Homo sapiens: one gene and its partner. The protein of the gene in region 2 purifies or fractionates together with the protein of the main gene of each other region. This does not show direct contact. Each region holds a gene or a part of one and is shown on either strand. Other genes may lie near its edges.

Evidence for each region.
Region 1: the proteins of TECR (region 2) and HSD17B12 purify together in Homo sapiens (co-immunoprecipitation; 2 studies listed by BioGRID and IntAct, with this or other methods). This does not show direct contact.

The regions. Positions count from the first base shown.
Region 1 is NC_000011.10:43,670,983-43,687,563, reverse strand, and holds the start of HSD17B12 (very-long-chain 3-oxoacyl-CoA reductase), read right to left. Parts: upstream 6,827-16,581; 5' UTR 6,737-6,826; coding exon 6,577-6,736; intron 6,462-6,576; exon of another isoform or gene 6,271-6,461; coding exon of another isoform or gene 6,207-6,270; intron 1-6,206. UniProt on the Homo sapiens protein: Catalyzes the second of the four reactions of the long-chain fatty acids elongation cycle. This endoplasmic reticulum-bound enzymatic process, allows the addition of two carbons to the chain of long- and very long-chain fatty acids/VLCFAs per cycle.
Region 2 is NC_000019.10:14,551,797-14,566,531, reverse strand, and holds the end of TECR (very-long-chain enoyl-CoA reductase), read right to left. Parts: intron 6,502-14,735; exon of another isoform or gene 6,141-6,501; intron 4,008-6,140; coding exon 3,957-4,007; intron 3,392-3,956; exon of another isoform or gene 3,359-3,391; coding exon of another isoform or gene 3,327-3,358; coding exon 3,275-3,326; intron 2,875-3,274; coding exon 2,830-2,874; intron 2,733-2,829; coding exon 2,629-2,732; intron 2,551-2,628; coding exon 2,435-2,550; intron 2,351-2,434; coding exon 2,245-2,350; intron 1,747-2,244; coding exon 1,674-1,746; intron 1,584-1,673; coding exon 1,540-1,583; intron 1,467-1,539; coding exon 1,409-1,466; intron 1,331-1,408; coding exon 1,242-1,330; intron 915-1,241; coding exon 869-914; intron 789-868; coding exon 661-788; 3' UTR 552-660; downstream 1-551. Other genes in the region: NDUFB7 (NADH dehydrogenase [ubiquinone] 1 beta subcomplex subunit 7), read left to right, coding at 267-399. UniProt on the Homo sapiens protein: Involved in both the production of very long-chain fatty acids for sphingolipid synthesis and the degradation of the sphingosine moiety in sphingolipids through the sphingosine 1-phosphate metabolic pathway.

The DNA of each region.
Region 1 (16,581 bases), on a different chromosome or scaffold from region 2:
CTTCCCTCTGCCCTTCCTGTCACTCCAGCTTGCTCACTTACACTCAACCGCCAGATCTCAGCTGAGGCACTGCTTCCCCAGCACAGCTCTAGAACTTTCCCTCACAAATTCTCATAGGACCAAATACTTCCTGTTCTCACCACTTACCATAGCACAGTTTATTCATTTTGTTACTGTTTGTCATCCCATTGGACTATTATAAGGTCTATAGTTAGCACTCAACAGTATTTGTGGTGGATAAATGGGCAAATGAATAGTGTTATGTCATACTCTCCACCAAGCCCAGTGAGGGCTTTGCTCACCCTGCCTCCCTAACCTTAATCTCAATCCATCCCAGATGACATGCATATGAATTGCTACATGTTGTTTTGCTAAGAGTGACAAGAAGGGAAATGAAATAAAGGATGCACTGTTTTTAAAATATACATTTAACTTATCCTTATCTACAAATAGCTTTTAATGGCACTGAAACTGATCTATTCAAATCCGTTTACCCATGCATTCTAAACTTATAAATTTTGTTATGTAAATCTGACAAATTTTTCTGAAACTGAAAGAAATAAATTATCCTCAATTCAACCAACCAAAACCAACAACAACAAAAAATTAGTTTTAAAGCTCAACACTCTCAGTTGCAAGTAGCAATGGTAATCTCAGTTATCTGACAATGTAGTCACCCAGATATCAACTCTTTCTTCTAAACCCTACCCTGGCAATTAGCTCAGGTAATCAGAGCACAGTGCTACTAAGGCTAATAATACTATAATAATAACAAGTTATCAAGCACTTATGTACTATCTGTTTTACAGAGAATAAGTATTCTCATTTACCCTTCACAATAAGCCTATGAAATCTGTAGGGAAGCTAGAATTCAAGTCTAGGTTTGGGTCTCCAAGTTCAAGTTTGACCTCTAAATAGGAAAGTTAGTGTTGCACAGAAAGAAAGAACAGGAAAAAAAAAAAAAAAAACAGGGTGGGAGCAATGGGGGCTAGTCGGGAGGGGAGTGAGGGAAAAAGATATTCAGGGAATGTAAACTCAGGATCTGTAATCCCAGGAAACCTCCCTCTTTGGTTTTTCCTCCAAATCAAATAAAGGTATGCTTTTAGGTCCAATCTTCAGTTGCATCTGTTTCCTCTTATGTAGACTCCAGCACTAGTACTTGAAAGTTGCCCTGCCAACTTTAATCTGCAGAACTTTTTCCATTTAGGCACACGTACTCCCTTTCGGGAGCCAAAGGGCAGAATAAACAAATATTCAAAAACATTTATGACTAAGTTTGTTTCTCTGCCTTCCCTCACCTTCCCTGCCTCTGCGAAAAACATAACCCATGTAATGACTACTGCGATCAACATTGGCTCGCCAGTAAGAACAGGTATCTATACCCCAATACTAGAATGTCAACAGCAAGCATATGACATTTACCAAGCTGGACCTCCAGGGAGTCACTAAATCCATTCAAGAATGCCAGAGCGATAAACAGAAAATAGCATTCGAAGTCAAATCCCACCATTCTGATGACTGTCAAACCCTTTGCTTTGTTAAGCACCTTAGTAACTTTCCAGTATTTTCTCATACGACAAGATTTATGGTTGCAAATCTGAAGAAAATCCCAAGCTACTTGATCCCAAAATGTGCCAACTATTCTGCAATCCTTCCAGAAAAATCATGAATGTGCAAATTTGAAACTGTGCCTTTTTTTGGTCTGAGATTGTTCTTAAAAATAAAACAAAAATTTAAATTTTAAAAAGTGAAAGTGTGTCTTCAATCAAAAAGCTTTTAATAAAGTTTGTAGGTATAAAGAAATCTACTCCCGAGTACTCATCCAGTCTGTAGGCCCATCACCAACATACAGTGTACGAATGTTGCAGAACGGATGACTTGGTTTCAAATCCTGACTCTGCAATTTAATAGCTATGAAACCATAGATAATGAAAGCAATTTACTAAACCCTCTGATTCTTCCTCTGTCCACTGGGGACAACGGAGCACAGCTCAAAGAGGTTAAAAATAATCTCAAGTTCCTGGCACATTTCAAGCACCCATTCAATAAATGATAGTTATTAATATTTCTTCTGGGTTGTCAATTTAAATAACTAACATTTCATATATAATTCTTCAAATCATGTGATATCACAAACTCTTGTTAAAGAAAGACACCTACTATTAATAAGCTCTAGTTACACAAGTATTCTTCAGTCATTTGAGGTTAACCCTGTGCAGTTAACCAATGTGAAAACAGAAATTGTGATTATACCTGTGATTTTGAGAATCCTTTGATGCATGTTTTCATGAATGGTTTTTCCAGAGGAGAACCACACCATTCCATGCCATTTTTAAGTCCTCACTATCTACTGAATTAGGAGAACCTTGGAATACTGCAAAGCCAAACGAGTTCCATCAGCAACCAGAAGCTACATCTTAGAGATTTGCTAATGTAAACATCCAGAGGGTAGAACAAAGGGTTGAAGACTTTTTTTGTGAAATCTGACCTCACTCCACAAAACAGAATATTATTCAGCAATACAAACAAAATGAAGTACAGATTTCATAGATGAAACTTGAAAACATTATGCAAAAATCAAAGAGCCACTAACAAAAAAGAACACCTATTGTATGATTCCATTTATATGAAATATCCAGAACAGGCAAACCTACGTAGACAGAAAGTAGATTGGTAGTTGACTAGGGCTGGAGCGGGTGGGGGTCAGGGAGTGAAGGGCCTAATGGGTACAGCATTTCTTTTAAGGAAGATGAAAATGTTCTGAAATTAGATTTGATGATGGTTGCACAACCCTGTGAACATAAGTAAAAACCTTGAATTGTACACTTTAAATGGGCAAATTGTATGGTATATTAATTATATCCCACTAAAGTTGTTTTAAAAAATCTAACTCACTAACTGATTAGTGGATCATTTATTCTTCACTGCGTGTAACAATATCCTCTTCATTAAAAACTAAAAATAAGTGCTCAGAGTGCTGTCTTATGTTTAAAGTTATAAAATATCTTGACATTGGAAGTCTACTTACCTTGCCTTTGCATCTATCATCTCCACTTTATTTCAATAGCAATCATTTTAGATGAACTCCAGCAATGGAAACTACTCAAATACTTGCAAAATGTATTTATGGTCAAACCACATTCTACAGATCACATTTTTTATTGCTCTATAGCAGTGACTGTTCTTTCCTTTATTTAATACAAACTGACCACCTTTGTTATCAATCTTTTTTTGATTACTTGCTACACTGACCTTCAAACACCTGAAACTCCACATTCACAGGATCTCCTTTTGTTCTCCTAAGAAATACAGGAAGTATTCGGGTAACAATGACAAAGAAGTCTTACTTACTAAATTGGCTAAACCCACCTTCTAGGGGTATAGGGAACACAGGGGATTCACCTGAGTGGGAATGTTACTGGTGAGAACTAGGAGAAAGAGATGGCCCAGCTCTTGACCAGGAGATGGAGATAAATTAGAGTGTGGGCCAGCCAAGTAATGGACAGTCTTGAAAGCCTAACAACACTAAGGAAACTGTTATCTAGAATATTTTACTGATTGTGAAGCATACCTGTATTTCAAGTTTTTCAAAGTTTTTGTTCTTAAATTTAGAAGAGCCAATTTGTGAGAAAAGACAAAAAGTGAGAATCCACGCTTTCTGCCCCTCAGATCCTAAAATCTGAGGCAGACAGATTAAACATACTCACATGAAGATACTCACATGAAGAGACTAAGAATAACAAGAATAAAAATATAGTATCAATTCAACATATACTAATAAAATACTTAAAATATATAATTGGTTTTAAAGAGGAAAATATTAAATATTAGTACTAGAAAGTAGATTCAAAGGCTGCATAAGAACAGAGACTCTTGAGATTAAGATAGTAATTTCGTAGGGAAAAAACTTACTAGTACTATTTACATACAACAATTCTAAAATCATAACTTTGGTGGAACAATATTTTTAATCACAACTCTAATTATTCAAGTGTCATCTCTGCTAGTTTGTTTTTCAAATTATTTCAGTTCACCCCTCCAACTCATGTGAAGAACCTGTTTAAGATGAGCTGCTCTTAATTTTGTTTTTGAAGAGTCCCAGAATTTGAAGATAAAGGGAGTATTTTCTTTTAAGATCACTTCTTCTGCTTAAGCATTTAAAAAAAAAAAATCCAAAACCCAGGGTAAATTGAACCTGTCAGCATTTCACTTCAATTATGATACTATGATCCTCTGCTGTTCCAGTGTTCCAGTTCAAATTTCATATCTAAATCTTACACAAATACTTCCCTTAATTTATCAATTATCCTTCCTCTGGGGCCAAATCTTTTCAACACAAATGTTACTTATGGTGTTACATCACTTGCCTTTTACTGTACACTCATATGTAGATGACTTGGACTTATCATTTGAATAATCAACCAATATGGTCAATTTTAAAGAGAAAAAAAAAAAAAAACAAAAAAAAACACATCCAGGCATGGTGGCTCACACATGTAATCCCAGCACTTTGGGAGGCTGAAGCAGGAGGATTGCTTGATCTCAGGTCTTCCAGACCAGCCTCTGAAACAGAGTGAGGCCTTGTCTCTACAAAAAACAAAAAAAATGAGCTGGTGTGGTGATGCACACCTGTAGTCCCAGCTACTCAGGAGGCTCACATGGGAGGATCACTTGAACCCAAGAGTTCGAGGCTGCAGTTGGCTATGATCACACCACCACACCACTGCCCTCCAGCCTGGGTGACAAAGTGAGACCCTGTCTCAAAAAAAAAAAGAAAAGAAAAGAAAACAACAAGTTATTAACATTAGTCTTTGCTTACCAATTACAAATTTTATCTTGATACAATTCCCTAATTTTTATCTTGTATAAAAATCTTGTAGTCTTTTGTAGTCAAAAGTCTTCAAACAGGTTTTCCAAAACTAACAATGAAGAATGTGGGCAAGTCAATTGGGAAATCATAATCTTAATTATAACCAAGTTGAATACTTCACTTTCTGTTTTTTTTTTTTTTTTTTTTTTGAGATGAGTCTCGCTCTGTCACCCAGGCTGGATGGAGTGCAGTGGCATGATCTCGGCTCACTGCAAACTCCGCCTCCTGGGTTCAAGCGATTCTCTTGCCTCAGCCTCTGGGACTACAGGGGCGCGCCACCACGCCCAGCTAATTTTTGTATTTTTAGTACAGACGGGGTTTCACCGTGTTGGTCAGGCTGGTCTCAAACTCCTGACCTTGTGATCCACTCGCCTCGGCCTCCCAAAATGCTGGGATTACAGGCGTGAGCCATCACACCCAGCTGAACATTTCACTTCCTTTTTCAGAGAAACAGGTGACTGTGAAACAGAATTATAATGTTGCTCCACATCGTCCAAAGATTTCACATACATATCCACTGCTAAGATGTTTTCTCTTAATGTTAACATAAACCCAAAAGGTTAACATATGTCTTTCCTACTAGGTTGTTTAAATGTTTCTAAATAAACAAAGAACATGGAGTAACATTATTAGTGTATCTTACCTGAGCCCAGTCTGCAGGCAATGCCTAACCACCCCAAAATTCAATAAAATGCTTAGGAAGTGCACATTCGATTATAAAACATCAAAATAAATAATCATCTCAGGGTAGGACCACAAGCATATCATAAGTAATCACTCGGTTTAAAGGGAAAAAAGGCCAAGAGACGAAAAATAAAGCAAAGAAGGAAACAAAATAGGTTGAAAAAGAAAAAAAAAAGGGGGGGGGGAGCAAAACTTCCCTGCAGATAATTTTCCCTATTTCCTCAACCTGACCTTCGTCCTCCATTTTAAAAATCCTCCGACTACAAGTTCCATGTGTTTGGTTCACTCTTTACGGGTATACTTTTTCCTACAAACGTCCTTGTGAAAAAAAAAAAAAAATCTGATTTTAACATGATGAGTTATCATTTTACAGAAGCAATAGTTCTTGCTACTCGTTAGGACTCCAGAACAGTTTAGCGAGAATTCCTTTTAAAGGGGCTTTGTAATTGTATGAAATAGGCCAAATCCAGATACGATTACTATCTTAATCGTAACTGGGGAGGTACGATTCCGCAGTGCAAAAAGCCTTCTGAAATTGTGTCCCTACACCCCTTTCCATCCTCTGCCCAAACATGTTAACAGAATGCTCTGCATCCTTAGCACAGGGCCAATATTCAAACCGAGCGAAAAACTTTATTTTAAAAACACTTACAAGGGGCGAACCAAGGAGGACAGCGTGTGACTGAGGAGGCAGCAGGGCGACTGACTGGCTCCATGAACACGGAATGGCTTAAAGGGCACAAGCCCCAGAGACTTAAGGCAGTTTTCTCCTACACCCTAAGCTGAGCTTAGATTCCCAGGATTGAGCGAGCAGTGTATTTCGTACCTTAAAACTCTGCAAGTAGTCTAAGCAAGCAGAAGACAGCCAAGGGAGCCAGGAGGGGCCCGCGGGGCACAGGAGCCTGAGAAAGAGGAGAGCTGGGGAGGGGAAGGCCAGGAGCAGACCCCAGAACTAGTCATCACGGCCCAGGCCTGGTCCGGGCCGCCGCGGGAGCGAGGACGCGGCGCTGCATCCGACTCACCTGCCCATTCTCCGAGCCCCGGGCCGACCCCCGCCTCATTCCCCACTCCCCAGACCCGGAGGGCCGTGAAGAGCGAGTACGAAATACGCAGGGCTAGGTAGGCCACGGTGCCCGCGCCGACCCAGTACAGGAAGCCGGCGGCGGGGAGAGCGCTCTCCATGGCTTTCCACTAGGCCTCACTACCTTCGTGAATGAAAAGAGCGAGTGAATGAATCCAGGAGGAGGCGCCGGCCGTGACGGTGAGGATGACACTAATAGGCGCTGCTCCGACACCACTTTGGGCCTAAACCCCGCCCGCGGGGCCATATCCGTGTCGCTATTGGTGACCCGTCTTTCCCTCTGCGCGTAGTGCGTCAGCCATTAGCTGACTCCAGTTCCACTGCCCCTCCCACACTCCTCCCATCACCGCGTCCCCCGGGGTTCCGCCAGTGAGCGCCCTGTCTCACCCCACCGAGGCGCCCCGGTCTCTCATTGGCTGCAGCCGTACTCGCGACTGCGGAAGACTGCGCTCGGATTGGCCGGTCAGACCCAGGCTGGTTTGAGCTCAGGTTCGAAGAGGAAATGGGATCAGAGAAGCCGCTAGTGAATGGAAAGATTATAGTAAGAAGTGGGCGTAGGCAGGGCGCGGTGGCTAACACCTGTAATCCCAGCACTTTGGGAGGCCGAGGCGGGCGAATCGCTTGAGCTTAGGAGTCCGAGACCAGCCTGGCCAACATCCGAACCCCGTCTCTACTAAAAATACAAAAATTAGCCGGGCGTGGTGGCGTGCGCCTGTAATCTCAGCTACTCGGGAGGCTGAGGCAGGAGAATCACGAACCCGGGAGGCAGAGGTTGCAGTGAGCCGAGATCGCGCCACTGCATTCCAGCCTGAGCGACGGAGTGAGACTCCATCCCAAAACAAAAACAAAAAAAAAAAGAAAAGAAATAGGTGTGGAGCCACAGTTTTATTTTCAACTCTTTATTAAATAAATATATATTTTACATATATGATATAATTATATAATAAATATATCATTGTTAAGCGTGCTGTCATTGTTGCCATAAACTTTTCCAGATAAAGGCTTGCAGTCTTCTGTGTCTGTGCCTTCCTCGCTGCAGGCATTCGCCCGGGTTACACTCACTCATAGAGAGCCCTTAAATGCCAGACCTCCCTCCCAGCTGAGCACTAAACATCACTTAGTTCCCAACGATTTGGGGTTCAAGGCAAATAACCTGATGGAGTCTAATAACTGTTAGACGATGGCATCAGAGCTGTATGGTGAATGAAAAATATAGGAACACAGCTTGCTGAACAATTAGTTTTGGAAGGAGACTATATCTTTTAATTTGTCTTCAAAGGGGGATAGAAAATTTTACTTTCTTTTTTAAATTTCCCTTTTTTGGTTGGGGAGTGGGGGAGTGGTATTTCCAGGGGGCACAGAAGTGTGAAGTCCAGATAGAGGCATGGGAACTACGTTAGCAAAGTTGCAGAGGAGAAAGATCACAAGGTAAGTTTAAAAAATTGTGTAAAACTTAAGGAGATTTTGGGCTGAGACGATGGGGTTTTCTAAATATACAATTATGTCATCTGCAAACAGGGACAATTTGACTGCCTCTTTTCCTAACTGAATACTCTTTATTTCTTTCTCCTGCCTGATTGCCCTGGCCAGAACTTCCAACACTATGTTGAATAGGAGTGGTGAGAGAGGGCATCCCTGTCTTGTAACTCAATGTGCAAAAATCACAGGCATTCTTATACACCAATAACAGACAAACAGAGAGCCAAATCATGACTGAACTCCCCTTCACAATTGCTTCAAAGAAAATAAAATACCTAGGAATCCAACTTACAAGGGATGTGAAGGACCTCTTCAAGGAGAACTACAAACCACTGCTCAACGAAATAAAAGAGGACACAAACAAATGGAAGAACGTTCCATGCTCATGGATAGGAAGAATCAATATCGTGAAAATGGCCATACTGCCCAAGGTAATGTATAGATTCAATGCCATCCCCATCAAGCTACCAATGACTTTCTTCACAGAATTGGAAACAACTACTTTAAAGTTCATATGGAACCAAAAAAGAGCCCGCATTGCCAAGTCAATCCTAAGCCAAAAGAACAAAGCTGGAGGCATCACACTACCTGACTTCAAACTATACTACAAGGCTACAGTAATCAAAACAGCATGGTACTGGCACCAAAACAGAGATATAAACCAATGGAACAGAACAGAGCCCTCAGAAATAACACCACACATCTACAACTATCTGATCTTTGATGAACCTGGCAAAAACAAGAAATGGGGAAAGGATTTCCTATTTAATAAATGGTGCTGGGAAAACTGGCTAGCCATATGTAGGAAGCTGAAACTGGATCCCTTCCTTACACCTTATACAAAAATTAATTCAAGATGGATTAAAGACTTACATGTTAGACCTAAAACTATAAAAAACCCTAGAAGAAAACCTAGGCAATACCATTCAGGACATAGGCATGGGCAAGGACTTCATGTCTAAAGCACCAAAAGCAATGGCAACAAAAGCCAAAATTGACAAATGGGATCTAATTAAACTAAAGAGCTTCTGCACAGCAAAAGAAACTACCATCAGAGTGAACAGGCAACCTACAGAATGGGAGAAAATTTTTGCAATCTACTCATCTTACAAAGGGCTAATATCCAGAATCTACAAAGAACTCAAACAAATTTACAAGAAAAAAACAAACAACCCCATCAACAAGTGGGCAAAAGATATGAACAGATACTTCTCAAAAGAAGACATTTATGCAGGCAACAGACACATGAAAAAATGCTCATCATCACTGGCCATCAGAGAAACGCAAATCAAAACCACAATGAGATACCATCTCATACCAGTTAGAATGGCAATCATTAAAAAGTCAGGCAACAACAGGTTCTGGAGAGGATGTGGAGAAATAAGAACACTTTTACACTGTTGGTGGGACTGTAAACTAGTTCAACCATTGTGAAAGACAGTGTGGTGATTCCTCAAGGATCTAGAACCAGAAATACCATTTGACCCAACCTTCCCATTACTGGGTATATACCCAAAGGATTATAAATCATGCTGCTATAAAGACACATGCACGCGTATGTTTATTGCAGCACTATTCACATTTGGAACCAACCCGAATGTCCAACAATGATAGACTGGATTAACAAAAAGTGGCACATATACACCATGGAATACTATACAGCCATATAAAAGGATGAGTTCATGTCCTTTGTAGGGACATGGATGAAGCTGGAAACCATCATTCTCAGCAAACTATCGCAAGGACAAAAACCCAACACCACATGTTCTCACTCATAGGTGGGAATTGAACAATGAGAACACTTGGACACAGGAAAGGGAACATCACACACTGGGGCCTGTCATGGGGTGGTGGGGGGGTGGGGAGGAATAGCATTAGGAGATAAACCTAATGTAAATGACGAGTTAGTGGGTGCAGCACACCAACATGGCACATGTATACATATGTAACAAACCTGCACATTGTGGACATGTACCCTAGAACTTAAAGTATAATTTAAAAAAATTGTGTAAAACAATAAAGTGCTTCACACTTACTCTCTACCTTCCTTCAAGAGTTTTTGTTTCCTTCTCTGGCATGGATTTGGGCTCAGAAAGGTACCTAAAATTTGTTCTTAGCCAGTAGGGGCTGCTGATTCAAGACTTGAGTGTTTTTTGTAAAGCAAGAACTTAAGGATAATAATTCTAAGGGTAACAGTTCAACATACCTTGCAGCTAACTTCATAGTTTGATAAGATTCAATTTGAGCCTTATTTCTTGCTGCCCAAACCCCCCCTTCTCCATTCTCTTATCAGATTAATTAGGTCTAACCCTAAGGCTGTAAATGTAAACCATCAATTACCCTGCAGAATTCAGCCATGTGAGTCGAGCTGACATCATATTTTATTTTAATTGAATTTGGTACCTTTGGCTGGGGCTGCCTCTTCAGTTCAACTAAAGGCCCACCACTCTTCGTCCTCAACTTCTCCCTCTTCCCCAAATCTTTGCCTACAGTATAGCTATATCCCCAAATTTATATATCCCAGCTCATCATTGCTCACCAACAAGGCACCCTCTAGATATTCAGTCCCATTCTCCTTAGAATAGGGTGGAAGGGGGAGAAGACAGTTATTATAAACTAACAATACATATTTTTTGTTGCATATGTCTGTCTGTGGCCCCCACTAGAATCTATGATTATAGGGAACACTATGCTGTGAATCCATAGGACCTAAAACAGTGCCTGGTACCTAGGGTACCCCAACAAATATCTAAGAAATAAACAGAAGTGAAGATTCATTCATTCAACAAATATTATTGTGTTCTAATTATGTGCCAGTCCACTGAGCTAGGTACTAGGTATAAAATAGTGAGCAAATGGGCAATTCTCAGTCCTAACCCTACTCTACCATTCAACAGGGAGTGGCCACTGCTTTCCTCTCAGTGTCCTTTGCTGGCCCCTTCTCTTACTGGCCTCTAAATTACACAGTGCCCTCAGGCTCAGACCCCAGCTCTCTTTACGTCTCTAATATATGATTTTATCCAGTCCCTTGGTTTTAAATATCAGCTGTAAGCTGATTATTTCCAAATGTCTCTGTCCAGGCTCAACTTCTGCTTAGAGGTCCAGACTTCTATACAGTATATATATCCACCTGCCTATTCGCATCTCTACTCAGATATAAAATAAACATTTCAAACTTAACATGTTTAGAATAGAACTCTACGCTTAACACATACACACACACACACACACACACACACACCCTCTTCCTCTTTTCATTCCTATTTCTATTAATGATACCATCATTTACCCCCTTTCTAAGGCCCAAGACTTAGGGATGAATGTTAACTCTTTCTTTTCTTTTTTTTCCCGCTCTTACCGCCCAGTCTGGAGTGCAATGGCGCAATCTCAGTTGACTACAACCTCCGCCTCCCAGGTTCAAGTGATTCTCCTTCCTCAGCCTCCCAATTAGCTGGGGTTACAGGTGCCCGCCATTATGCCCAGCTAATTTTTGTATTTTTAGTAGAGACAGGGTTTCACCATGTTGGCCAGGCTGGTCTCAAACTCCTTACCTCAAATTATCCGCCTGCCTGGGCCTCCGAAAGTGCTAGGATTACAGGCATGAGCCAACATGCCAGGCCTGAACCTTGATTCTTTTCTTTCCATTACATTCCATATCCAATTCTTTAGCAGGTCTTATTCACTCTACTTCCAAAATATATCTTGACTGGCCACTACTAACCTAATTCAAATCACAAGCATTTTTAGCCTGGAATATGGCAATAGCCTCCTAACTGGTCTCCCTAAAGCCTGTGTTGGAGTTTGTTGTCCATGTAGCAACTAGAGGGTTTTTTTTTTTTTAAGTAAATTAGATATCATTTTCTTCTACTCAAATCCCTTCAAGGACTTTATATCACATTAAGAACAAAATCCTCCAAGTTGAGTTTGTCTGCCCTGACCTCTCCGGCAACACGGACCACCCTCTCCTGTGCTCACTTGATTCCAGCCACACTAACTCCTTGCAGTTCCTCAAATAAGTCAATTTCATTCTGGTCTCAGAGTCGTTCTATTACACTTCCACTTCCCTCTGCCTGGAACCTCTTACTATCTTCCCAAGGCTCACTCCTTTGTATTATTTAGGCTTTTGTTCACATGTCATCCCCCTTAGAATGGTATTCCCTGACCTCCCTTCATAACTTTCCCAAATAGCTTTATCCTCTGCTCTAGCAATCCTTATCCTTTTATCTTACTTTGTTTTCCTTACAGAACATAATGCTTTCAAATTGTTTGATTACTAGGTCTTTGTCCATCTACCTAATAGAATGAATGTAAGTTCATTAGTACAGTGAACTTTTCTTGTTCACCACTGTATCTTTAGCTAAGATGTGCACCCAAGAGTACCTGACACTTGGTATGCAATAAATACCTGTTGAATGGGTGATGAAGGAATAAATGAAAATAGATTGTCTAGTGGGAGAGACAGACATTCAGCAAACTTCCAACTAATTATATGATAAAAATTGTAATACGTACAAAGAAGAAAATAATAGGACATAAGGAAAGAGGTTAACAAGAGGACCTAATTTAGGTGGGGGAAAAGAAACAGCCTTGAAACGCCTTTCTAAGGAACCCATATTTGAACTGGGATCTGAGAAAATGCAGAAATTGAGTGAGGGTGTGGTAGAGGAGAAAGCAATCAACACCGGAATGAAGGCTTTGATGTGGTTTTGAAGAATACACATCTGTGCCTCTTGCAACTATCACAGCATATGGCATAAAATTAAATAGGCAATAATTGTTGGTGTAGGGCTATTTAAAATAAACACATGTACTTTGGAAATGGAATTTCCATTGCTGTTGGAATTTAGTTATTTTAATGAAAAGGAATGTTAAAGACTGAAACCATCTCATTTTGGTATGCATTCCTCTTCTAAAATGCCTAGGCACTACCCATGCAATTAATAGAATAATCGTTATTTAAAATGTACACATTTATTCTGATCACCTCAGCCTCTTTTTAGGAATTAGGAATACTAATTGTTTTATCTACTAAGGGAAAAAATGGCGACTTCCACAAAGTGAAGCAGTACATGCCAGATAGCCCTTTGGAGTTCAGGTGGTCACACACTTTTGGAATTCAACAATCCTTTGTCGCTGAATAAATTTTACGAACCACAGTAAACTCTAATGCATACAGGACCCTATAATGATGACCCACTCCTATTCAGCAGTATTCTGTGCTGAAATTTAACATCTAATGAAGGGTTAGTAGAGCCATACTAACCAAACATGTGACTAATAGCTCTCCGAAGAAGAGGCAATACGATAAAACTCTGGCCTTTAGTGTCAGGTAAATCTGGAACCAGATCCTGATTCTGCCTCTTATTAGCTGTATGATCTTGTATAGATTTAATTATTATGCATTCAAATTCCACATCTGTAAAATGAGAACAATACTACTTAAGCATTTAGCAGTGATTGGCAGATAGATATTAAGTGTTCAGTGAGGTAGGTACTACTCTTAACCCCATTTTATGAATGAGGAAACAGAAGCTTAAAGCTAGTAAGTGGAAGAATTGGAATTTGAACCAAAAAGGTGTGACTATGAAATCATATCTCCAGAACTAGCTCAGAGAAAGCAGCATCTAAAAAATGACTAAAGGCTGGGTGCCGTGGCTCATGCCTATAATCCCAGCACTTTGGGTAGATCCCTTGAGCTCAGGAGTTCGAAATCAGCCTGGGCAATATAGCGAAACCCTGTCTCTACAAAAAATACAAACAAACAAACAAACAAACAAACAAACAAACAAAACTAGCTGGGCTTGGTGGTGCATGCCTGTAGTCCTAGCTACTTGGGAGGCTAGGCAGGATAATTGCTTGAGCCTGGGAGGCGGAGGATGCAGTGAGCTGAGATTGCGCCATTGAACTCCAGCCTGGGTAACAAAGTGAGACCCTGTCTCAAAAAAAAAAAAAAAAAAGAAAAGAAAAGAAAAGAAAAGAAAAGAAAAAGACTAAAGGAGAGTAGAAGAGTCTCTAGAAATATTTTGTTATTACACAAATAAAATACTCAGATGTAATCACATTAGATTTCTGCTTCATTTATTAACAAATTTAGAGTTTAGAATAGTATTTAATATGAAAAAAATGAAGCAACAATATTGTATCATATTAGTATACAAATATTCCCATTTAGTCGAAAATTCATTTTTAATATTTCTGTAAATTGAGTTTCAGATCAGAGTTTCCTGATGAAATCAGGAGTAGTTCTATAGAATGAAAGTACACTTCATAATCAGGGAGTTTCATAGAAGCGAGGAATTATTAAGCATACCATCTTGTTTAATCCTTTGGGACATAGCTGAATCCTTCACTTGGCTGTAAAATAAAACCTTTTAACAGTTCTGTCTTCTCGCTCATCTTGATTTAAACATTGTTCAAAATATTGAACTTTAACTTGCCTTTAAATTCAGTTGTCCAATCCTGGGTTAAAAAGAAAAAGTGTTGTGATGAACAAACCAATTTAAAAGAAACTGAGTCTTAAGCATTAGAAATTGGGAGGTTTCCCAAAGTTAATATTTAATTTATTTAACAAGAAATATTACCATAAGAAAGGAAGATTAACATTTATTGGCCAGGGTGCGGCGACTCACGCCTGTAATCCTAGCACTTTGGGAGGCCGAGGCAGGCGGATCACCTGAGGTCAGGAGTTTGTGACCAGTCTGGCCAACATGGTGAAACCCCATCTCTACTAAAAACACAAAAATGAGCCGGGTGTGGTGGCAGGCGCCTGTAATCCCAGCTACTCAGGGGACTGAGGCTCTCTTGAACCCAGGAGGTGGAGGTTGCAGTGAGCCAAGATCGCACCACTGCACTCTAACCTGGGCAACAGAGTGAGACTTTATCTTAAAAACAAACAAACAAAAACACCTATTATGCTTTAATATTGCAATATCAACTTCAAAGTCACTTCACATACATTACCCCATTCAAACATCACAATAACACCCCCATTTTTCCAACAGGGAAATTAACTCTTTAAGTTAACCTTCTTGCATACGGACTACTTTAGTGCAGCAGGCCTGTTTCTAGAACCAAGATGTCTTCACTAAAAATGAAGGGCTAGGCCGGGAGCGGTGGCTCACGCCTGTAATCCCAGCACTTTGGGAGGCCGAGGCAGGCGGATCATGAGGTCAGGAGATTGACACCATCCTGGCTAACACGGTGAAATCCCGCCTCTACTAAAAACACAAAAAAATTAGCCGGGCGTGGTGGCGGGCGCCTGTAGTCCCAGCTACTTGGGAGGCTGAGGCAGGAGAATGGCGTGAACCCGGGAGGCAGAGCTTTCAGTGAGCCGAGATCATGCCACTGCACTCCAGCCTGGGCGACAGAGCGAGACTCGGTCTCTAAAAAAAATAAAAAATAAAAAATAAGAAGGGCTCTTTCTACTCTGCCACCTATTTTATAACAGAACTTAGACTCACATTCATAGTCTTCTGTAAACATATTTCCCAAATAAAGCTGAAATCAGTCATTTTGAAACAAGTGATTAGAAAATATAGTTTTAACATTTTACTTATTTTTTAGTTTCAAAAGCACACGGAATTATATGAAATGAAAAAGCATCCCACCCCATTTTCTATTCCCACTAACAGTTGGCAATTTGTACTGTATTCTTCCATTTCTTTTTCTTTTCACTGACATTTCTAAGTATGAAGCTATATAATATACACAACATATACATATATACTTTTTTAGAAGTAAAAGCTGTGATTATGCAAAAATAATTCAACAACTTTCTTTCTCCACTCAATAATATATGATTAAAAATATCATAGTGAAATCTTGACATACCAATATTGCACATTAACTGGTTTTCTTTATTGCATCAGCAGATCTAATAATTGTTCCATCAATCTTACTCAGAATACTTTCGCTTAAAGAAAGGAATTAGTGCCATGGTAAACAAACCAGTTTAAAACCGTGTGAAAGGGGCCAGGTGCGATGGCTCATGCCTGTAATCCCAACACTCTGGGAGGCCAAAATTGGCGGATTACCTGAAGTCAGGAGTTTGAGACCAGTCTGGCCAACATGGCGAAACCCCGTCTCTACTAAAAAATACAAAAATTAGCTGGGTGTGGTGGCACAAGCCTGTAATCCCAGCTACTTGGGAGGCTGAGGCTGGAGAATCACTTGAACCTGGGAGGTGGAGGCTGGAGAATCGCTTGAACCCAGGAGCCAAGATGGCGCCACTGCACTCCAGCCTGGGCAACAGAGTGAGACTCCATCTCAAAAAAATAAATAAATAAAATAAAACCATGTGAAAGGGAAAGTAAACCATAATATCTTACCTACATCATATTTCCAGCATAACTGTAGGACAGTTATGCAAGCAAACTTAAGGCAAATAATATAGCGGAATTTGAGGAGGTTTTCTTTACCTGAATCCTTAATTTGGCAATAGGTCCAAGGATTTGTTATCTTTACCCAC
Region 2 (14,735 bases):
AGTCCCAGAGAGGGCTCTCTAGGGGCCTGTTTGATGGGGACAGGGCAGGTGGCTGAAGCCACCTAGGGGAGTGGCCAAGCCCAGGTTCCAGTGGGAAGCCCTGCCACCTGCGTGGGCAGACCCCAGACCCAAGCCACAGGCACTCGGACATGTCTTCTTCAGAGGCCTCCCCCACAGTGCTCTGGGACGGCCCCTCCGCTTCCCAGGGCTTGGGGGGCGTGTCCTGGCCAGGGACCCTGACAGCCCCTCTCGTGCTTTTCCCCCAGCTATGTGATGCGCATGAAGGAGTTTGAGCGGGAGCGGAGGCTGCTCCAGCGGAAGAAGCGGCGGGAGAAGAAGGCGGCAGAGTTGGCCAAAGGCCAGGGACCCGGGGAAGTGGACCCCAAGGTGGCCCTGTAGGGGGTGCACCCCCCACCCTATGGACCAGTCAAATAAAAGCCTTCAGGCCCCTCAACCAGAGTCCCCTCTTACTGCTCCGACGCGAGAGTGGGGAGAGAGTGAAGGGCAGTGTGGTGGTCCCCAACCCCGGAAAGAAACACACAGAGCCCGAGTCCGACTGGGGCAGGCGGGCTTTATTCCGGGTGCTGGAGAGCTGTGGGCCCCACTCCTCCCCCAGAATGCCACCGGGTTGAGGGGCTGAGCCTCAGCAGGGGTGAGCGCTCAGAGCAGGAAGGGGATGATGGGCATGCGCAGGGGCGGGTAGTCCCGGAACTCCTTCAGGTAGCTGCGGTGCTTGCCCTTGGCCCAGATGGTCATCTGGGTGAAGCCCACCAGGGAGAACAGGGCCACTGCAGGAAAGAACGGGCGTCAGGGAGGGGCTGCCGGCCCGGAGGGGCAGGGCCCCGCCGAGGGAGGGCGGCAGGCTCACCTGGGAGACACTGCGTCATGATGGCGAAACCGATCCAGGACCCCACCTGTGGGCAGGGGCGGAGAGTGAGCGTGGGCAGCCTCGCAACCCGTGTATGTGGCTGTCCTGGACTCAGCCAGCCACCTCCCGCCGCCCCTGCTTTCTGAGTCAGGGATGGGAACCCAATTCCAGCGGAGGCGGGGCTGTATACGGCGGAAGCCCAGCGGCACACGCCTCCCCGCCACCACAGCAGAGAGGCCGCGGTCTCCACCTCCCAATGCTCGCAGTGCAGGCGGCAAAAGCAGCTGCCCAGCCAGGCGCCCCATCCTAGGGGCTGGTCCCTCCACATGGGACCCCAAGTCCCAGGGCAGAGAGGGGTAAGGCAGCCCCTCACCTCGTAGGTGTAGTTGGGGCAGGACACCAGCAGGAAGAGCCACGTGAAGGGGTTCTTGGTGGGGTATGGGATCTTCCGCGTCTTGGACCCTGGCAGGCAGGACAGAAGGAGAAAGTCAGACCCCCTCACCCAGCCCAGCTGTCCCCCTGCCCCCAGCAGGCACTCACCAGCGGGCCGCAGGTCCCGCAGGGCCATGTGGATGGAGAAGTTGCCGAGCTGGCAGATCTGTCAGAGAAGCAGGATCAGCCTAGGGCCGCCCAGACTCCCCCGACCCCGTCCCCACACCCAGCCTCCTTACCACAAAGATGGCGAGCGCCAGTTTCACCTGCTGAGCTCCGTAGGCTGAAGAGGAAGCAGGGAGGGGAGCCCATGAGGGGAGGACCCGCTGGGTGGGGACCGTGGGGGAGGGAAGGATGGTCTGAGGCCACTTACTAGGGGGAGTGTAGAGAGGGTGATTGATGTAATAGGCCATCCACGCGGCGAAGCCCCAGTAGTAGGTGCAGTTCTGAAAGGGAGCAGGGCAGGGATGGGACTTGGGCCAGCACCGGACAAGGCAGATGCTGCCCATGTCTCATCCCGAGGGGCCTGGGAGCATGGTGGGAAAGGACAGGAGGGGCCTTGGGGCGGGGCTGGGGAGGATAGGCGGGGCCAAGGGGTGAGGCTAGGGCAGGGCTCTGTGAGGGCGTGGTGGACAGGAGGGGCCTAGGGGTGAAACTGGGGCGGGGCTCTGCAGGGGCGGGGCTGGGGGGATAGGCGGTGCCTAGGGGTGGGACTAGGGTGGATAGGCAGGCCTAGGGGCCCGACGGGGGCGGGGCTGGGGAGGACGGGCGGGGTCTAGAGGCTCTGCGAGGGCGGGGCTGGGGAGGTTAGGCGGGGCCTAGGGGTAGGGCTCTGCTGGGGCGTAGTGGCAGACAGGAAGGGCCTTGGGGTGGGGCTCGGTGGGGGCGGGGCGGGGTGGGGCAGAAAGGCGGGGCTTAGGGGTGAGGCGGGGACGGGCTCTCACCTTGAAGATGTTGCGCAAAGGCATAGTGCCATGGGAGAAGCGGTGCACGAAGAGCGTCTCCAGCAGGCGCTTGATGTAGTGGAATGAGTGACAGATGCAGGCGAGGCTGGTCGGGGGGAGCAGGCTCAGCTGGGGCTGGTCCGGCAGGTCTTCTGCCTTCCCCTACCCTCCTCCCACCTGCCCCACTTACTGCACCACTGTATGCCGACTGGACGTAAAGTCATATTTGTGGCCATAGATGAAGGGCACTCGGAAGTAGAAGAGCAGGTAGATGAAAAGGGGCCCCGCGTACTCTGTTAGGAAGACCTGAGAGTAGAGGGGGGCAAGATGAGTCACCCAACGTGGCTGACGGGAAAAGAGGCCGTGGGTAGGGTCAGGACTCACCGTCACCCAGCTGATCTGGGCCCCCAGGTCCCGGAAGTACAGTGTGGCCGTGGTGCCCACGGGCAGCTTCTGCAGAACATCCTCATCCTTCAGGGACTTGCCCTCTGCAGAGAGGCGGGCCAGGGCTCAGGGGCTACCCGGGCCTTCTCCCACTGCCACCCAGGAGCCCAGGGGGCGGGCCGAGTGGACAGCTGTACTCACTGGGGTCCAGGCGGAGGGACTGGCGGGCGGGGTACCACTGCGGATCTGCGGGGAGAACAGGGCAGTTACAGCCCACAGCCTGGCAGGGCTCAGCCGGTCCGCTGCCCAGCCACTGTGCCAGCTTCTCAGGGTTCCCAGGGTGCAAGGACCCCAGGACTCCACAGCTCCTCCCACCTGGGGGCAAACCCTCAGGCTTGTGCGGTTTCAGGACACAAGCCAGAAGAGCGCGGGCAGAAGCAGGATCTTGTCCTTCCCAGAGCCTAGCAAGGGCGTTCCTGCGGAGTGCCACGTGGAGGCGCCTGCCCCAGTCACGCCCCAGAAGCCTGGGCCACACTGGGGCATCTCTGCAGGCCCCTGGGAGAGGGGTGCAGGATGGGATCCCTCCCACCCTAAGGTCCCTGGTCAAAGGGGTTGCAGGGGCAGTGTGGCCGGGACTAGAACTCACGGGTCTTAGTGAAGAGGTTCTTGATCTCCGCAATGGTGGCGTGGGGCTCCACCTGGGGGAAGCACAGGCGCAGGGACGTCAGCTCTGCGGGGAGCCCAGACTCAGGATGGGGAGGTACTAAAGGGGATGGCAGGCTGGGGGTTGGGCTGTAGCTATGGGAAGGGGGAAGGGCTGGGGTCCAGGCCTCTGCCTGCAGTCAGGGAAGGACCACCGAGGGCCCTGCCAGTGCAGTGACAGCAGGGGTCTGGGGCTCCACTTTTACCCTCAGCCAGCAGGCCCCCAGCCCGGCTAGTGGCGGATTAAGCATGGGAAGGCAAGCCTGCTTCTCTGCCCCTCCTCTCCACTTCTCACCCATGACTCTCCCAGGAGCAAAGGCCCTCTGTCCTCCCCAGGGACAGCGCAAGCCCCTTCCCCCAGGCCCGGCCTCAGCAGGGGCAAGGCTCACTCCTCCACCGCCCTCCCAGGACCAAAATCCCCGCAGGGTCCACTGAGACTCCTGTGCCTCCATTTCCCCGCCACACCCAGGGGACATGGCTATCCACCCTACCCCAAGTGAGGGCATACCCCTCCATAGGGCAGGGGGTGGGGCACAAAGGGCCCCACTGGACAGCTCCTGGGCTATAAGGATTGGGGTCCCGGGCCCAGTGCCCTTGGCCCAGTGCAGCCCACGCCCCAGTCCTACCTTGTCCAAGAAACACAGCTTCTCCCTTGTCTTTGCGTCCAGAATCTCCACCTCGAAGAAGAGAACAGCCTTTTTAGGTTTCTTGGCCACCTTTGGGGGTGTGGGCCTGGGGAGCCCATTGAGGCCAGGGAGGAGGCCTGGGGTGGCCTCCCGGGCCAACAAGCTCAAGTTCAAGTCCATGCCGCCTGCCACCAGCCCTGCCACTCGGCTCTGCCCACGGTGGCCAGCAGCCCCAGCTGCCGGCCGTCAGCCCCCACCACCGACCTCCCCACGGGAAGCAGCCCTGGGCCGGGCAAGCGCGATCAAATTCTGCCGCGGTGCTGGAAAGGAGCCCGTGCCGGCCCTGGCACTGCCGACTTCTGTGCCAGATGTAACCCGAGTGGCAACCACAGCCACAGCCCAGCTAAATATAAAACCACCCCAGACTGCGCCCCCCAGGAGCCATGCCACAGACCTTCTCTGAGGGGGGCTTGGGAGTCTCCCCGGGGAGCCAGGCTGCCCTGAAAGCAGCTTTTGAGTGGTCACCTCAAAACCCTCAACGGCACCAGCACAGGGAAAGCCCCAGGGGCAGGCATGACAACACCTCCCAGCCCCCGCCCTGCACAGAGCCAGTGGCTAGAGGAGAGTGAGAGGCCAGCGGGCCGTGCAGGCCCCAGCCCGCAGCTCAGGCCTAGGGAGTTCACTGGGCTTGGAGAAATCCCAGCTATTTTGAGAATCCGCGAGACAGATCATCCATTTCCCCTTCTGAGCTGTAAGAGACACTTTGGATTATTTTCCTTGTGCATTTGTGTTACCAGGGAGGTGACAGATTCTGGAGTTATGGGTGCAGAGAGCCTCTCTCGAAGTGTGGAAAGGATCGGGGTGTGTGGAAGTTTTAGGCAACCGCCTCCAGCTTGGGCTGATGAGGTCTCCCCAACCTTCCTCCCCACCCACTTCTCACCTTATAGCCACCTGTGGGGCAGGCTTTCCACTGAGTCAGCCCAAACACTGCACCCTCACCCAGGACCTGCGCCCCACTAAAGCCCGGCGCTTCCTGCGTCCAAGAGCCAGGCCTGTGCCAGCCCCTGAGGTAGGAGTCTGGCCCAGCCCTCCCTGAGCCCCCAGGCCAGTGATGAACGATGGGGGTGCAGAGGGGCAGGGCTGGAGGGAGGCAGCCCCCGGGGATCTGACCCACCCTATGCAGGGGTCAGTGCAATCCTATTATACAGGGGTCGTGGCAAGCAGGCAGGCCTGATCCCAAGTCAGCCACCAGCCAGCAATTCTTGGGGGACCCTTCCTACCCACAGAAACCCAGCGGGGGCCCCCAGAGGCTGCCTGAGGAAAAGGAGCAGGACACAATGCTCAGAAACAAACCTCTGGGCTGGGGCCATCCCAGGGCAGGCCCACCCACCCAGAGCCCAGGGAGACCGGGCCACGGCAGCTAGGGCCCATCCTGAAGATGAGGGCACCACGGTCAAGCCAGAGAAGCTGGGTACCCCTCCTGCACATTCCCAACGACAGCGGGAGACAAGGGGGCTTGGTGGCCTGCACTCGGGAACCGTAACCAGCCCTGCCTTGTAGTCCCTGGGGGACCCCAGGCATGTCACCTCTCTCTAGGCCTCAGAAGGGGGCAGGTAGGAAGCAGACTACCTCCCAGGACTGTGACGGTCCCCTGAGACAATGCATGGGGTACACTAGGTGACCCCTGACAGATGGGAGGCACCCCATGGGATAGGAGGCATTGTTGCCCGTGGGTTTGGTTCAGATCCCCACTCCCCTGCTGGCCTGGCAGTCACCACAGCATGGGGGCCTATTTCCCCAGCCATGACACACTCGCCCCCACTTCCTGGACAGGAGGGTGGGAATGGGCCCAGCAGCCAGGAAATCCTGGCCCACGGGGCCTCCTGAGTCCCTGCTGTCAACTCCAGGCACTGCCTGGCCTTGTGGCCTCTAGGGGAAGGTTACTGAACTCCTCCAAGCCACAGCGATAACAAGGCCAAAGAGCTGGCACATGGAGGGGCCAGAAAAAAAGAGCTCGGTCACACCACGCAGGACGTTGGGCCCCACCAAGGGGATATGTAGGATAGGGACAGAGGACACGGGGCGGGATCCACGGGAAAGGGTTAGCACAGCAGGGCCCTGGGCGGGCACGGGGCCTGCCCTGTGGCTGCAGGTATATTAATAGTTCCTGGGCCCCAGGCAGGCAGTGCCCACATGCTTCCAAGCCCGTGTGGCCTGTAGGAAGGCAGCCTAGCGTCCACAGGGAGAGAAGGCCTCCGAGTTCCTGCTGAACCACTCAACAGCTTAAAATACAACCAGCCCCTCTCCCTGTCCAGCCAGCTGCTAGTGGGAGGGGTGAAATCGTACCCTGCTCCCCCCAACCTGGGCACCAAACCAGGGCCCAAGAGGGAGAGTACGGCCATCGGGGTCCCGGCTAGCTGCTGGGAGAGGACGCCGGGCTGCGGCAGGAGGGGGTAGCGAGAGAGGGGCCACGCTCACAGCTGCAGCAGTGGTGCCCAGGCCAGCCTGAGGCCCAAGGAGAGGAGACGCCCAAACCTGCAAGGAGGTAAGCCCGGGCTGCAAGGCAGCACCTAGGGGCCCCTACAGACAAGAAATGCCCAAGGCTAGGGCCACCTGGGCAGGATGAGTCCTCAGTGGGACGGCCGTCCGTCTCCCATTTCCTGCCCCAAATCCCCAGCTCGTCGGCCATCTCCTCCTAGAGAGAGGACTGAAAGGCTCTGGGGGGAGCAGGAGACCTCTCCATACTATTCTTGCAATTCCCTGTGTCTCTATAATTTTTTTTTTTTTTTGAGACAGAGTCTCACTCTGTCGCCCAGGTTGGAGTGCAGCAGTGCGATCTTGACTCACTGCAACCTCCGCCCCCCAGGTTCAAACGATTCTCCTGCCTCAGCCTCCAGAGTAGCTGGGATTACAGGCACACACCACCACATCCAGCTAATTTTTTGTATTTTAGGAGAGATGGGGTTTCACCATGTTGCCCAGGCTGGTCTCGAACTCCTGAGCTCAGGCAATCCACCACCTCGGCCTCCCAAAGTGCTAGGATTATAGGCGTGAGCCACCTGGCCCGGCCTATAATTATTTCTAAGTAAGAAAGTTAAATAAGATATTCCAGGTGGGGTAAAAGAAATAAGTTACGCTAGGAAACAAGCCAGACACAAAGGTCCCATATCTATGCAAAATACCCAGAGCAGACAGACAGAAAAGCAAATTGGAGGGGCCAGGGGCTGGGCGGGGGGAATGGGGAGTGGCTGCTGCTGGGTACCCGGTCTCCTTTCAGAGTGAGGAAAATGTTCTGGGACGAGACAGAGGTGGAGGCTGCACAATGATGCACGTGCACTCAATGCCACTGTTCACTTTTAAATGGTTAGTTTCATGTTACATGAATTTCACCTCAATAAATTATTGTTTAAAGGGGTGAGGGGTAACAAACAGGCCCCACATACCCATCAAAATAAAAACAGTCGGGTGGGAGGAGCAGGAGAGGTTCCCCACCCCTCAGAGGGAGGGCCTAATGTGAGACCTCATCGAGGGCTCCGCGCCCCACACCCCACTGCCACCCCAATCTCTGCTCTGTGCCTGCCACACACACACACGCCTGCCCAGGCCTGAGGCCAACAGGGGGCAGGGGCTCCCAGGGGAAGCCCAGGGCTGCAGAGGGTACAGGCAGCTGCTGAACAGAGCCCCAGGCAGGGGATCCTGAGCACAGACGGGGAGGTGGCAGGCTCTGGCCCCATCTCCAGGAGAAGCGGTGAGGCAGGGAGGACAGACAGGACCTTCTGAGGAAGCCCACGGAGCCACTCGGAGGGGCTGGGAGGGGCTGAGATGCTCTGGGTGGATGAAGGGATACCTGTGGGAGGGGGGCTACTGGTGTCAGCGAGGTCCCAGCACTGGCCACGGGCAAGGGGTGAGACCACATAGCCTCAGGCACGACGGGCAGGGAGAGGGCAGGAACGGGCAGACAGGCAGGCACTCTGGCCTGGGGCACAGGCTGGTGGCTCTGCCGGCCTGTGGCTCTGTGATGACAGTTCCACTAGCCTGAGAGGAATTCTCACCAGGAGGCCCAAGATTCCCGGGGCCCAGCCAACAGCAACTCGTCGCAGCACGAGGTCAGGGCAGAGCCAAGAGCCAGGACACACGGTGCGGCGTGAAGCGCACCCTGCAAGAGGGAGCAGGGGCGAGGTTTGTGCCTCCCAAGCCCAGAGGGGAGTGCCGCAAGCAACAGAGCCCGTCTTCACTGTCTTTGTGGTCATGAAGATATTACTAATGGGGGCAGGAGGAGTGAAAAGGGGGGCTCTCGTTGTCTAAGCACTTGTCACAGCTCCTGGGAACCCGCCCGCCTGGTGGGTGAACAACCCAGAGAAGCAGACCTGCCCATTTCCTGGCTGTGTGGCCCTGGGCAAGTTACCCAACCTCTCTGAACTTCCATCTACTCATGGCAAAGTGGGCTGTCCCCAGCTGCCATCTGACAGGGTTACCGTAATCATCCCCAGTTTAGGATAAATCTTATTAAGGATAAATATAGGCCGGGCGTGGTGGCTCACGCCTGTAATGCCAGCACTTTGGGAGGCCGAGGCGGGCGAATCACGAGGTCAGGAGATCGAGACCATCCTGGCTAACACGGTGAAACCCCATCTCTACTAAAAATACAAAAAATTAGCCGGGTGCGGTGGTGGGTGCCTGTAGTCCCAGCTACTCGGGAGGCTGAGGCAGGAGAATGGCGCGAACCCGGGAGGCAGAGCTTGCAGTGAACCGAGATCGCGCCACTGCACTCCAGCCTGGGCGACAGAGCAAGACTCCATCTCAAAAAAAAAGAATAAATATGATGACCGGGCACGGTGGCTCATGCCTGTAATCCTAGCACTTTGGGAGGCCAAGGTGGGCGGGTTACCTGAGGTCAGGAGTTCAAGACCAGCCTGGACAACATGGCGAAACCCCGTCTCTACCAAAGATACAAAAATTAGCCAGGCGTGGTGGTGCATGCCTGTAATCCCAGCTACTCAGGAGGCTGTGGCAGGAGAATTGCTTGAACCCAGGAGGAGGAGGTTGCAGTGAGCTGATATCGCACCACTGCACTCCAGCCTGGGAGACAGAGCAAGACTCCATCTCAAAATTTAAAAAAAGAATAAATATGATTAGGCGGGGCACTATGGCTCACACCTGTAATCCCAGCACTTTGGGAGGCCGAAGCAGGCAGATCACCTGAGGCCAGGAGTTCGAGACCAGCCTGCCCAACATGGTGAAACCCCGTCTCTAATAAAAATACAAAAATTAGCCAGGCATGGTGGTGTGTGCCTGTAATCCCAGCTACTCAGGAGGTTGAGTCAGGAGAATTGCTTGAACTCAGGACGGTGGAGGTTGCAGTGAGCTGAGTTTATGCCATTGCACTCCAGCCTGGGCGACACAGCAAGACCCTGTCTCAAAATAAATAAATAAATAAATAAATAAATAAATAAATAAATAAGATTAGACCAACACTAGCAGAACAGCCATGCCAGGTGCACAAGGGGGCCAAACCCTGGCAGGATCCACAGGCCCCTTCTCCTGGGACGCTGACCATGCTCTTGAAGGGGCCCATCCACAGGAAGCCAGGGCCAGAGAGCTGGTGCACTGATGCCTCGCCCAGCTGGTCACAGTGAACCCAAACCCTAACAATAGCGAGATACTTTCGGTGCAGAGGCCGAGCTGACCCGTCACCACCGGGATGACTGGCTGCAAGCGGCGGAGGCTGCGACGCTCCCCACTGCCCCCTTGTGGCCGCACAGACTTACTCCCGCCTGCTGGAAGGGCACCCGCAGCAGCCGGCTCAGGAACAGTCCCAAAGCCGATGTCAGGGACGGAGACAGCTCTGGTGCAGAATGGGACCTTAACCCTGGCCCTGCCACCAGCCAAGAGAGCTCAGGGAGCCTGCATTCATTTATCCATTCATTCATTCCTGACTCCCTCCTTCCCATACCCCAGGCACTGTTCCAGTTCCTGGGATATGGCAGTGAAAAAAACCAAGCCAGCCTCTGGGGTTCATGGGACCTGAATTCTAGCCTGTGCGTGCTGGGCAAGCAGGGGGTGGGGGCAGATAGCCATAGCATGTTTTGTCACCAAGAGTTGTGAACAAAACTAGAAGGTTGTGGGGGAGGTCACAATGTGGTTTTTTTTGTTTTTGTTTTTTTTTTGAGAGAGTCTCGCTGTCGCCCAGGCTGGAATGCAGTGGCGCGATCTCGGCTCACTGCAACCTCCAAGAGGATGGCCATTTGAGAGTGGTCAGAGAAGCCCTTTCTGAGAAAGTGGCGTGTGAACAAAGGCCAGTAGACAGTGGGGGAACCAGTGCAGTCCAGGCAGAGGGAACAGTAAGTGCCAAGGCCCTGAGGCTGGACCATACCTAGCGTGGCTGAGCAGGAAGGAGTCCTGTGTGGCCTGAGCAGAGTGAGTCAGGGAGAGAGTGGGAGGAGGTGAGGGCAGAAAGGTGATGTGGCGGTCTGTGCCACGGCTTTGTGGGCCACGGGGAGGACGTTAGCTTTTACTCTGAGTGAAGTGGCAGCCATAGAGGGTTCTTGAGCAGAGGAGGGATGAGACTTGGCTCAGGTTCAAGACTTGGCTTCCCCAGCTTTACCTGCTTGCCACTGCTGGGTGGAACAGACTGGAGGAGTGAGGGCAGAAGCTGGGAGCAAAGAGGGAGCTATAGAGAGGTGAAAAGTGGGCTGGGCGCAGTGGCTCACGCCTGGAATCCCAGCACTTTAGGAGGCTGAGACAGGATGATCACTTAAGCCCAGGAGTTCAAGACCAGCTTGGGCAAAATAGCAAGGCTCTGCCTCCACAAAAAGTATTTATAAAAATTAGCTGTGTCCACGCATGGTGACTCACACCTGTAATCCAAGCACTTTGGGAGGCTGAGGTGGGCAGATCACCTGAGGTCAGGAGTTCGAGACCAGCCTGGCCAACATGGTAAAACCCCGTGTAAAAACACAAAAATTAGCCAAGTGTGGTGGCACACACCTGTAATCCCAGCCACTTGGGAGGCTGAGGCACAAGAATCACTTAAACCCAGGAGATGGAGGTTGTGGTGAGCCAAGATTGCACCACTGCACTCCAGCCTGGGCAATAGAGTGAGGCTCTGTCTAAAAAAAAAAAAAAAAAAAAAAAAAAGAATAAATAAAAATACAAAAAAATTTGCTGGGCATGGCAGTGGGCACCTGTAATCCCAGCTACTCAGGAGGCTGAGGCAGGAGAATCGCTTGAACCCAGGAGGCAGAGGTTGCAGTGAGCCGAGATCACACCACTGCACTCCAGCCTGGGCCACAGAGCAAGACTCCATCTCAAAAAACAAAAATAAAAAATTAGCTGGGTGTGGTGACTCGCACCTATGGTCCTACCTACTCCTCAGGGGCTGTGACAGAAGGATCGCTTAAGCCTAGGAGTTCCAGGCTGCAGTGAGCCATGATTGATTACACTACGGCACCCCTGCCTGGGGGACAAAGCAAGACCCTGTCTCAAAAAAAAAAAAACAAGGCCAGGCGCAGTGGCTCACGCCTGTAATCCCAGCACTCTGGGAGGCGGACGTGGGCAGATCACAAGGTCAAGAGATCAAGACCAGCCAGGCTAACATGGTGAAACCCCATCTCTACTAAAAATACAAAAATTAGCTGGGCATGGTGGCACACGCCTGTAGTCCCAGCTACTCAGGAGGCTGAGGCAAGAGAATCGATTGAACCCAGGAGGCGGAGGTTGCAGTGAGCAGAGGTCAGGCCACTGCACTCCAACCTGGTGACAGAGTGAAACTCCATCTCAAAAAAAAAAAGCACAAGGCAGAGACAAGCAGTGAAATTCTGGACAGATGTGGAGGTGAAGAGTGGGTGTGGCCTGAGAGTGGAGTGGGTGTGGGGATGAGAGGTACAGGGAAGGAGGGAGGAGCAGGCACCACCTGAGCCAAGGCTGGAAGAGCTGAGCCTGCAATTCCTGCTCATCCCCTGGAGGCGCAGCCTGAAGGCCTGGCACACACAGCCATGCACAGAAGGCCTCTGGAGCTTCGGCTTCCCCAGCTTCACAAACAAGCCAAGACTGGTGCTTCCCAGTCCTCTCCCGGCTGTAAACAAGCAGGTTCAATGGCCTTGCTGGCGGCAGAGTCCACACCACAGGACCCAGCAAGGCACCTGCCTGCCCTCTCAGCCCCAGAAGAGGGGCAGACCCGGGCCAGAGCGGGAAGCTTGGATTCTGGGCCGGCCTCATCTCCCATGGCTTATGAACCTGAAACTTCTGTGTGTCCTAGGACGTGACCTGCCTAATGGTGATGAGTGAGAACAGCGACCAACAGTTATTTCACGTTCCCTGCCCGGGGCTGGAACTGCCACAGCTTCCCAGACATCTCTCCTGCAGCAGCCGGAGGGAGCAGGAGCCATTAGCTCCGTTTCACAGATGAAGAGGCCAAGATCTAAGCAGTAAATCCCAGAGCCCAGAAGACCACGCGTGCATGTTGAAAGCCAGGCCATACCCCACCACACATGGGCCTCCAGGGCCCCCTTGCAGAGCTGATGTGGTGCCGCACAGCCCACCTGTTGAGCTCAAAGCTCCGGCAGGCTCTCTCGGACCCCGCAGGGGACTGCACTTCCTGGTAGGAAGCATCTCCCGAGTCTGGGGCACAAGAGGCCTGGCTGGGGGTGCGAGCCCTGGTCAGTGCAACCAGGGCCCCAGGTAAAGACACAAAGGGCCTGACAGGTCCTGCAGCTGGCCAGCCAGGCACTCACCATCCCCGCGCCGGGCACAAGCGCTGCTGCACTCATCGCCTGAGCTCCCTGTCCAGCCAATGCCCAGCATAGAGGTCGGAGGCCTGGCCCGATCATGCCCAGAGCCACGCCGGCCACCTCGCCCCCATCACCTCGCCCCCATCACAAATGCAGAGACTCCGGCACATTCATCTGGACTCCGGCTCAGCGGCTCAGCCCTCTCGGCTCCCTTTCCTTCCCACTTCCAGAAATATCAAGTCAACCTGCTAATGCCAGGATGGCTGAGAAGACCTAGGGCTCAGCTGCCAGGAACCCTGCACAGGCCACACCTGCTCGGCCAGAAATACCACCTTCCCCAGTGGCCTCAGTGTATGACCTCGTTTCTCAGTGGCACCCGGGGGCGGCTGCACCAGCCTCCCCGAGGCGCCACAGTGGAAGCAGAATGTCACCCAGGGTGGGGAGGAAGGGCTGAGAGTGGCTGACCTCCCACTCCCAGGTCCCTGGACCGCTCTGCTCCTGTCTTCTACCTGTGCTGGCAAGACGAGAGGTGCCAGGGTCTCAATGCCAATGTCTCTGGGCTCTCGGATCCGAGGCCAGGGCCAGGTGCAGAGGCAGCGGTAGCCCGGGACCCGGAGAAGCTGGAGCTGCTGTTCCCATCCAGCAGAGCCCCGAGCGAGCAGGTAGCAATCCAGCCTTGGAAGATGGTCATCGGACGCACGAGCTCCTGGCTTGGGCGAGCAGCCACAGCCATTCATAGAGGATGAATATGGCACAAGACAAACACAGTGGGAAGTTGGAGAACCTGGGTCTCAGCCCTGGGCCTGCCCCCCATTCTCAGTGGTACCCACAGCCTACACCCATCCCTGCGGTTGTGCCCTCAGGGCCTCCGAGGAGCACTGGCCCACCCAGAGCGACGCTGATCTCGCCCGTTTCATTCAGACGTGACATCTATCAGATGCTCACCCTGTACCTAGGACTATGCTGAGACTGCCACCCAGGCCTCACCCAGGCCCTATAAGAAAAAGACTGGGCCGGGCGCAGTGGCTCACACCTGTAATCCCAGCACTTTGGGAGGCCGAGGCGGGTGGATCACGAGGTCAGGAGATCAAGACCATCCTGGCTAACACAGTGAAACCCCGTCTCTACTAAAAGTACAAAAAAAGTTAGCCGGGCATGGTGGCGGGTGCCTGTAGTCCCAGCTACTCGGGAGGCTGAGGCAGGAGAATGGCGTGAACCCGGGAGGCGGAGCTTGCAGTGAGCCAGAGATTGCGCCACTGCACTCCAGCCTGGGCGACAGAACGAGACTCCTCTCAAAAAAAAAGAAAAGAAAAGAAAAGAAAAAGACTGTGATGCCTGTTACGTGGCTTGGAAAACTGGGGCTTGGGAACGAGGAAGCCCTCGCCCAAGGTAAGTAGCCTGGAAGTGCCCATGTGAGTGTCCACCCAGCTTGCTCAGGCCCAAAGCTCCTACAATAAAATAATGCCTCCATCCTAGAGAGCAGGGCTATGTGCAACAGAGAAAGGAAAAGGCAGGCCGGGCACGGTGGCTCACGCCTATAATCCCAGCAGTTTGGGAGGCCAGACTGGGAGGATTGCTTGAGCCCGGGAGGTCAAGGCTGCAGTGACCTATCATTGCACCACTGCACTCCAGCCTGGGGGACAGAAGACACGCTATCTCAAAAAAAAAAAAAAAGAAAAAAGAAAGAAAGAAAGAAAGAAAAGAAAAAGGCCAGGCGCGGTGGCTCATGCCTGTAATCTCAGCACTTTGGGAGGCCAAGGTAGATGGACTGCTTGAGCCCAGGAGGTCAAGGCTGAGTTATGACTGCACCACTGACTGCACTCCAGCCTGGGCGACAGAGCGAGACTCCATCTCAAAAAAAAAAAAAGAGAGAAAGAGAGAGAGAGAGAGAGAGAGAGAGGGAGGGAGGGAGAGAGAGAGGGAGGGAGGGAGGGGGAGAGAGAGAGAGAGAAAGGAAAGAAAAAGAGGAAGAAAGGAAGAAATAAAGAAATAAGGGTAAAACCAAACAAAAGAAAAACAAAAACAAAAAAACAAAAAACCCACCACCCTG